Regions from separate parts of the Homo sapiens genome. Here region 2 is linked to region 1. A link means that fine-mapping ties the variant in region 1 to the expression of a gene that starts in the linked region. Tissue or cell type: whole blood. Region 1 holds a variant in brackets; the other region holds the start of a gene. All regions are shown on one strand. Distances are from middle to middle.

Region 1 (4,266 bases):
GTGGTGTCCCAGAGGGTTTTGAGTGGGGCTGCAGGCGCAGTGGCCTCATCCCTGCTGCAGGACCCTAGAGACCAAGGTCTTGGGAGGAGGAGTGATCTCTCAGCTATAGTCCTCCTGGTGGGCTCTGAAGACCTCAGGCTCTGGAAACAGACAGATATCGGTTCAAATCTCAGCTCTGTTACTTACAACCACCCTGAACTTGTAATAAGTTACTTGTTCCCTCTGAGCCCCTCCTTTCCTTTCCTTTCCTTTCCTTTCTTTCCTTCCTTCCTTCCTTCCTTTCTCTCTCTCTCTCTCTTCCCCTCCCCCTCTATCCCTCCCTCCCTCTCTCCCTTGTCTTTCTGTCCTTTCTTTTTTGAGACAAGGTCTCACTCTGTTTCACTCTGTTGCCTAGGCTGGAGTGATCCTCCCACCCCAGCCTTCTGAGTAGCTGGGCCCACAGGTGTGTGCCACCATACCCAGCTAATTTTTATTTGTATTTTTTTGTAGAGATGGTGTCTCCCTGTGTTTCCCAGGCAGGTCTTAAACTCTTGGGCTTAAGTGATCCTCCTGCCTCGGCCTCCCAAAGTACTAGAATTAGAGACATGAGCCATGTGTCCAGCCCTACACCTGTTTCTTTTTCTTTCTTTCTTTCTTTCTTTCTTTTTTTGAGACAGGGTCTTGCTCTGTCACTCCAGGCCCACTGCAGCCGTGATCTTCTGGATCCAAGCAATCCTCCTACCTCAGCCTCCCAAGTAGCTGGGACCACAGGCGTGTGCTACCACGCCCGGCTAATTTTTTGATTTTTTTTACAGAGAACAGGGTGTCACTATGTTTTCCAGGCTGCCCTCAAACTTCTGGATTCAAGCAGTCCTCCTAACTCGGCCCCACAAAGTGTTGGGATTACAGGCATGAGCCACTGTGCCGGGCCTTTTTATTTGTAAAATGAGGAATTTAATAATACCTCACCTATAGGGTTGTTTAGAAGATCAGATGAAATAATGCATATATAGAGCTTAGGGCAGTGTCTGGCTCATAGCGAGTGTAGCATAGTGGGGACTGTTTTATTATTATTAACACTATCAGTGCCATGGCACTCAGAGATGGACTGGGACTTTCCTGTTTCTTCCACTCAGCCTTTGAGATAACAGAGAAATCTCCATGCTTTTTCCCAAGCCTTGAAGTACCTTCTAGAGGTACCTAGAGGCAAGTGGAGCTGGTGCTTTAGCTCAAACTCTAGGCTTTAGGAGCTGCAAGAAGGATTTGTGGAGGCCGGGCGCGGTGGCTCACGCCTGTAATCCCAGCACTTTGGGAGGCCGAGGCGGGAAGATCACGAGGTCAGGAGATCGAGACCATCCTGGCTAACACGGTGAAACCCCGTCTCTACGAAAAATACAAAAAAAAAAAATTAGCTGGCCGTGGTGGCAGGCACCTGTAGTCCCAGCTACTCGGGAGGCTGAGGCAGGAGAATGGCGTGAACCCGGGAGGCGGAGCTTGCAGTGAGCCGAGATCGCACCACTGCACTCCAGCCTGGGCGACAGAGCAAGACTCCGTCTCAAAAATACAAACAAAGGAAGAAGGATTTGTGGAACCACAGAATGGAGGTTGCTGTTGCTGTGGGAGGAGGGATGGACGGGACCCCCGTGAGCTCTCCTGGCCTGGTGAGGTGGTCCTTTCCCGACGCTCTGACTTTGGGAGAGGCATGGAGCCTTCTCTGCGTCTCAGCCTCTCTTCAGGCCCACATGGGAGATTCATACGTAGTCCCCCCTTATCTTCAGGGCATGTGTTCCAAGACCCACAGTGGATGCCTGAAACCAAAGATAGCACTGACCTCCTGATAGCTTGGGTCCAGTTGCTGTCAACTGGAACGTGTTTCTGTTCATGTCTCCCACCCACACATTCAATGCCTTTTCTATCTTAACTAAGCACTTAGCGTGCGCTGTGGCGGTACCTTTTGCAGTTCGAGGTGTGACAGCAAAACTGGCACAAATTTCTTTTTCCTTCTTTACAATTTCACGGATAGAAGATTCATTCTTACTGTAGAGCTTACCAACCTCAGCATCGGATTCTTTTTCTTATTAAGTTGAAAACTTTTACCTTTTCACTTAAAGGGAGCATATTTTGGCTTCTCTTTCACATATCCAAATTGCCAGCATCACTACTCTTGTGCTTTGGGGCCATTATGAAGTAAAAATAAGGGTTCCTTGAACACGGGCACTGCCATACCACGACAGTCAATCTCATCACTGAGATGGCTCCTAAGTAACTAATGGGCAGGCAGTATAGACAGTGTGGATCCTTGGGACAGAGGGAGGGTTCATGTCCTGGTCTGGATAGAGTGAGGTTTTTTTTTTTTTTTC[C/TTC]GAGACGGAGTCTCGCTGTGTCACCCAGGCTGGAGTGCAGTGGCTTGAACTCGGCTCACTGCAAGCTCCACCTCCTGGGTTCACGCCATTCTCCTGCCTCAGCCTCCTGAGTAGCTGGGACTACAGGCGCCCGCCATCACGCCCGGCTAATTTCTTTTGTATTTTTTAGTAGAGATGGGGTTTCACCGTGTTAGCCAGGATGATCTCGATCTCCTGACCTCATGATCCGCCCACCTCGGCCTCCCAAAGTGCTGGGATTATAGGCGTGAGCCACCGCGCCCGGCAGAGAGAGTGAGATTTTATCAGGCCACTCAGAACAGCGTGCAATTTAAAACTTAGGAATTGTTTATTTCTGGAATATTTCATTTAATATTTTCAGATCAAGGTTCACCTTGGGTACCTGAAGCCGTGGAAAGTGAAACCAGTGGATAAGGAGAGAGTGACTTTATTCTTTTCATTTATTTATTTATTTATTTATTTTTTTGAGACGTAGTCTCGCTGTGTCGCCCAGGCTGGAGTGCAGTGGCGCGATCTCAGCTCACTGCAAGCTCCACCTCCCAGGTTCACGCCATTCTCCTGCCTCAGCCTCCAGAGTAGCTGGGACTACAGGCGCCTGCCACTACGCCCGGCTAATTTTTTGTATTTTTTAGTAGAGACGGGGTTTCACCATGTTAGCCAGGATGGTCTCGATCTCCTGACCTCGTGATCCACCCGCCTCGGCCTTCCAAAGTGCTGGGATTACAGGCGTGAGCCACCGCGCCCGGCCTTGACTTTATTCTTATTGCTGTCACATTGGAGGTGTTTGAGAAGGAAGTCGAGAAATTATTTTCCTATATACTCATTCTCCCAACACACATCAAACTGTCCTGCTCCTGCATCAAACCTGGTTTTCTTGGCCAGGTAGATGAGGTTTCCTGGATTTGTGCTGCTAGCTAAAGACATGGCAAGGGAAACCAGTACTCCCCACCCTCCCGTCTACCGCGGCTCACTGTTTCCTCCTCCTGCCTGACCTGATTCTTGTCTCCCTCTTTTGGATGGTGGATTTAAGGTTTGTGTTTTCACTGTGCCTTCAACCAACTAGGGGCCTTTGTGCGGCCATCTTCGTGAGAAGAGATCTCGGGCTGCCATCTCTCCCTAGTCTTCCCTGGACCTCAAGTGCCCAGTGTAAAACATGATCTGAAAGAACGAAAATAATATCTTAAATGGAATCATGCCTTTTAAGCTATTTTTGGCTGGGCGTGGTGGCTCTCGCCTGTAATCCCAGCACTTTGGGAGGCCAACGCGGGCAGATCACTTGAGGTCAGGAGTGTGAGACCAGCCTGGCCACCAACATGTGAAACCCCGTCTCTACTAAAAATACAAAAAGTAGCCAGGCATTGTGGTGGGCACCTGTAATCCCAGCTACTTGGGAGGCTGAGGCAGGAGAATTGCTGGAATCTGGGAGGTGGAGGCTGCAGTGAGCTGAGATTGTGCCACTGCACCACAGCCTGGGTGACAGAGCAAGATTCCATCTCAGGAAAAAAAAAAAAAAAAGTATTTTCAAATCATCTGACTCCTCCTCTCTCCCAGTGCAATGACTTTAGGCAGCAGTCCCCAACCTTTTTGGTACCAGGGACTGGTTTGTGGAAGACAGTTTTTCCACTGACCCGGGGGAAATGATTTTGAGATGATTCAAACATTACATTTATTGTGTACTTTATTACTATTTTTAAAAATTATTATTATTATTTTTAGAGACAGAGTTTTGCTCTTGTTGCCCAGGCTGGAGTGCAATGGCGCAATCTTGGCTCACTGCAGCCTCCGCCTCCCGGGCTCAAGCAATTCTCCTGCCTCAGCCTCCCAAGTAGCTGGGATTACGGGCATGTGCCACCACGCCTGGCTAATTTTGTATTTTTAGTAGAGATGGGGTTTCTCCATGTTGGTCAAG
Region 2 (4,144 bases), 100 kb after region 1:
TGGAGTGCAGTGGTACAGTCACGGCTCACTGCAGCCTCCACTTCCTGGACTCAAGTGATCTTCTCACTTCAGCCTTCTGAGTAGCTGGGACTACAGGTTCGTGCCACCACGCCTGGCTAACTTTTTGTATTTTTAGTAGAGACAGGGTTTTGCCATGTTGCCCAGGGTGTTCTTAAACTCCTGGGCTCAAGGGATCCGCCTGCCTTGGCCTCCTAAAGTGCTGGGATTACAAGTGTGAGCCACTGCTCTGGCTTTTTGTGTGTGTGTGTGTGTGTGTGTGAAAAAGGGTTTTGCTCTGTTACCCAGGCTGGAGTGCAGTGATGTGAGCAGCCTGGACCTCTTGGGGACCTCTTGGGCTCAAGTGATCTTCCCATCTCAGCCTCCCAAGTAGCTGGGACTGCAGGTGCACTACCATGACCAGCCAATTTTTTTAGAGACAAGGTCTCACTATGTTGCCCAGCTGGTCTCAAGCTCCTGGGCTCAAGTCTCTACAAAATATGCAAATACCCTTCTGCCTTGGCCTCCCAAGTGCTGGGATTATAGGCATGAGCCACCACATCTGGTGTTGGTTTTTGTTTTTGTTTTTACGGGACCAGGCACTACAGCTCACACCTGTAATCCTGGCACTTTCAGAGGCTGAGACTAGAAGATTGCTTGAGCCCAGGAGTTCAAGGCTGTGGGGAGCTATGATTGCACCACTGCACTCCAGCCTGGGTGACAGAGCTAGACCTTGTCTCTAAACTAAACAAAACAAAACCCAGTACCAAGAGACCCAGTGACACCAAACACGTTTTGCAAGTAGGTAGTTTAATAGTTACAGTTACCTGGTTCTAAAAAGTGTCTTGCTAGAGAACATTTGTTCAAAGGGGCCACTTTAAAGCCTGCTATTCTAGTGTATACTGGCCGTAGTTTCTGAAATTGTAGCGAAGATGGAGAAATAATAACAGCATTCATAAGCACAACTGCAGATATTATACTTCTTAGTTTAAAAAAAACCTTTTTTTTTGGAACTATAAAATAAAAACACAGGCTACATACATACTCATTTTCTCAAATTGGCTTTTGTGCAAAAAAAGGTTGTTACCTATTGGGTTGCTTTGTTATTTCCTTAGAAAGATGTATTCCAAATTCCCAATGGCCAACCTGCACATGTGCACTCTGGGAACACAGTCAGTTTATTGGTTGGGGGTTGCTTGCCCGAAATCTGGGGTCATAGAGCCACTTCTCTCATTTTATTGTCTTGATCCTATCCATAGACCCGTTCTCACCAATCCCTCAAATTCTATTTATCCCTTTCCTGGAATACTAGATGTCTGCCCACGTTAATTCATGCCCCACCTAGGGTGCCGCATTTCCCAGCATTGGCTCCACTTGCTGTGAGCCTTGAAGAAGGCCAAAGCTTTGGCCCCGTCATCCTCCTTGCACCCCCAAACCCGTCACCAGCCTTGCTCCCCCAGATGCTTGTCCATCGTCCCCACCTACACACCCTTGCCCACCTCACCAGAGTTACAGTGCCGACAGCTCTCACAGTGGGGCCGGGTGTGGTGGTCAGGAGAGAAGGAGACCCCCGGTATGCAAGGATCACACTGAGCAGCCTTTCTATGCTGGTCACAGTCCTTCACGAGGAATGTTCCTGGGAGGAGAGGGTAAGGGATCAAGGCCTGAGAAGGGCTGGTTCTCTGCCCTCTTCAAGGTGGTGCCTCCCCACAGCTGCAGGATTTCCCTCCTTGCTTGAGCTCAGTCTCACCCTGCGCCTATTTACTGTATTAACCCCAGTCCTCTCTCTTTCGCCACTCACCTGGCCCTTACCAAGGCCCCCTCTTACCTGGCTCACACATCTGGCAGCACAGCTTTCCCTGAGCCCAGTAGTGCCTCTCTGGGCAGCTCTTGGGGGCTGGAGTAGCTGAGAGCCCCACCAGGGTCCCCAGAACGCACAGCCACCAGGGATGTGGCCGTGCCATGGTCCCTGCCCAGGCGGCTCCTTTCTGTGCCCAGTTGCTGATGCTGGCCTCTGGAGTTAGCACCTCCAAGCTGGGCGCTGCTGTCTCTTCTTTGCACCCCCTGGGCAGTGGCTGCTTCAGGTGGCAAGCCAACCTTTGAAGGCAGAATCTCTATTGTGGCTGTTTTTTTTTTCTCTCTCATAGCAGCAACCTCCACCCCCTTCCCCTTCCGTGTGCTGGGGAGAGTATTAAAGAGCAAACTCTGTGAGACCTGCTGCTCTTCAAACATGCTTCCTCCAACACATGAGCCTTCCTTAGTTTCCGCCTCTCCTGCTCATGAAGCACGTAGCCCACTGACTCCTGCTTCTTTGACAAAAAGGTGATGGACACACAGTTGCTCACCCCTCCTATTCATGCACTTGTGCACAAAGGTGCCCACGTTACCCCCCCCCACCCACCCCCCCGTCCACAGTTTACAGACGAATTCGCAGGACTCCTGTCTCCCATACCTGCATCCCTCCTTTCACAGACAACAGTTGAAAGAAGGAAGGAGAACCAGAATTGAGCACAGGTCCACAAGCTCTTATCTGAAACTTTGGGGGTCAGATAAGTTTTGGAATTCAGAATTTTTCAGGTTTATACAGAAACCAGCACCACAAAACACCCTTGGGGAGTTGGGGTAGTCTCATAATCAAACGCAACATTTCTGCAGCAAAACTATTGAATATTTACACCAACTGGGAGGAAGCTTAAATAGCCTTGTCTCAATTGAGGTCTGGTTTGATGGCCAAACGAGTTTGCTACAGAATGCTCAGAATTGCAAGCAAGGGGTGTAGAGCTGCCTCTCTTCTGTCACACTCTGACCGATCACCTATGCTCTCCTTTAATCCTCATGTCAGTCTCTGATGTGGGTGCCACCTACTGCCCACATGGCCTTCCCTCTCAGACCCTTGCTCACTCCTCACTTTTGTGCCATCTTTATCCTCCCCTTTCCCACCTCTGGCTGTGTCAGTCACTGGTGTCCTGGATCGCCTGGAGCATCTTCTCTCCTAGCCTTGGGCACTTGGGATTAAAGGTAGCTTCCTACGGGGGTCATCTCTTTTTTATTTTCCCAGTTCTCCCAGCAAGACTGATTTCGGGATATTGGAAACAGCTAGACTTTTCCCTCTTTGAGTCATGGGGACACACACGGGTCAACAGCCTCCTCCACTCTTTCCTCAGCAACCGATATGTGGAGTGGCTTATTTCCCCAGGAAGTTTTTAATTTAGGGGCTTTGCCGTTGTTTCCACACTGTTCATAAATGTCACACTGCTGTGGTCACACCTGTCAGATCTGTTCTCTATCTCACTCTGTAGTTTCCTTTCTCCTCATTTTCTCCATTCTCTTGTCTTTTCCCAGCCCCCTCTGCAGCTCTTCATGGGGGTCCACTCAAGTCAGAAGCCACATTTGGGTGTGATTCAGAGAGCTGTTTATGCAAAACCAGCTTTGTCACCATCAGGCAAGGCACCTGAATTCCCACCGCAGAGAGTGTTGTGGCCGTGAGGACTTTTCTGTCACCAGCCATTTCCAGGTTGTGGTAAATGTGTTCACTGCAGGCATGGGGCAGTGGGGTGGCTAGCTGACTGCAGGCCCTGGGAGGGTGGATGAGACCCTCAGAAGAATCATGAGGAACTGGGGACCTTTAGGAAGAAACTTGTCGAACAGGGACTTGCAGTTCGCTGAGCCTAGCAACCTTGAACCGACTGGGAACTGCTCACTAGCCTAACGCTGCTGTCCTCTGGGCCAAAGCCCATCTCCTCTTTTCTACATATCACTTCTCCAGGGGGTCAGAGCAGGAGCAGGGTCTGCCTGGCTTTCCTGGAGGGCCTCGGCCAAGAGGAGGAAGGCCAGGTTTCTGGACGTTTTTCTTTCCTAGGCAAATAGAATGAGCTCATCTCCAGCACTCTTTGCATCCACTTCTGGTGAGCCTTCCCCATCCTAGGCTGGCTCCCTGGACGGGACCTTCCTTTTTTTTTTTTTTCCTCCCTCCATTTCACTCTGTCACCCAGGCTAGAGTGCAATGATGCAATCTCAGCTCACTGCAACCTCTGTCTCCCAGGCTCAAGCCATTCTCACGCCTCAGCCTCCTGAGTAACTGGGATGACAGGTGCGTGCCACCACGCTCAGCTAATTTTTGTATTTTTAGTAGAGATGGAGTTTTGCC

The links. PIP is the estimated chance that this variant, and not a neighbour inherited with it, causes the effect. A credible set is the group of variants that fine-mapping cannot tell apart.
Region 2: CD27 starts here. The variant in region 1 is the best candidate, but not a certain one, in a credible set for the expression of CD27 in whole blood (INTERVAL, PIP 0.72).

Annotation. Positions count from the first base shown.
Region 1 is chr12:6,543,772-6,548,037 of GRCh38, reverse strand. The region is part of intron 8 of IFFO1 (intermediate filament family orphan 1); the gene reads left to right. Among named protein-coding and RNA genes, the nearest start is that of IFFO1, 10 kb to the left of the region's middle. The variant C/TTC (reference allele first, on the strand shown) is at 2,340.
Region 2 is chr12:6,442,913-6,447,056 of GRCh38, reverse strand. It overlaps CD27 (CD27 molecule), which reads right to left and starts at 2,102. Exons shown (of 6, transcript NM_001242.5): 1 at 1,826-2,102; 2 at 1,502-1,633. The coding sequence starts at 1,961. It overlaps CD27-AS1 (CD27 antisense RNA 1), which reads left to right. Exons shown (of 6, transcript NR_015382.2): 4 at 1-96; 5 at 3,340-3,511. RefSeq lists enhancers at 822-941, 1,651-1,830, 1,861-1,920, 1,465-1,966, 2,871-2,920 and 1 more and a silencer at 4,001-4,080.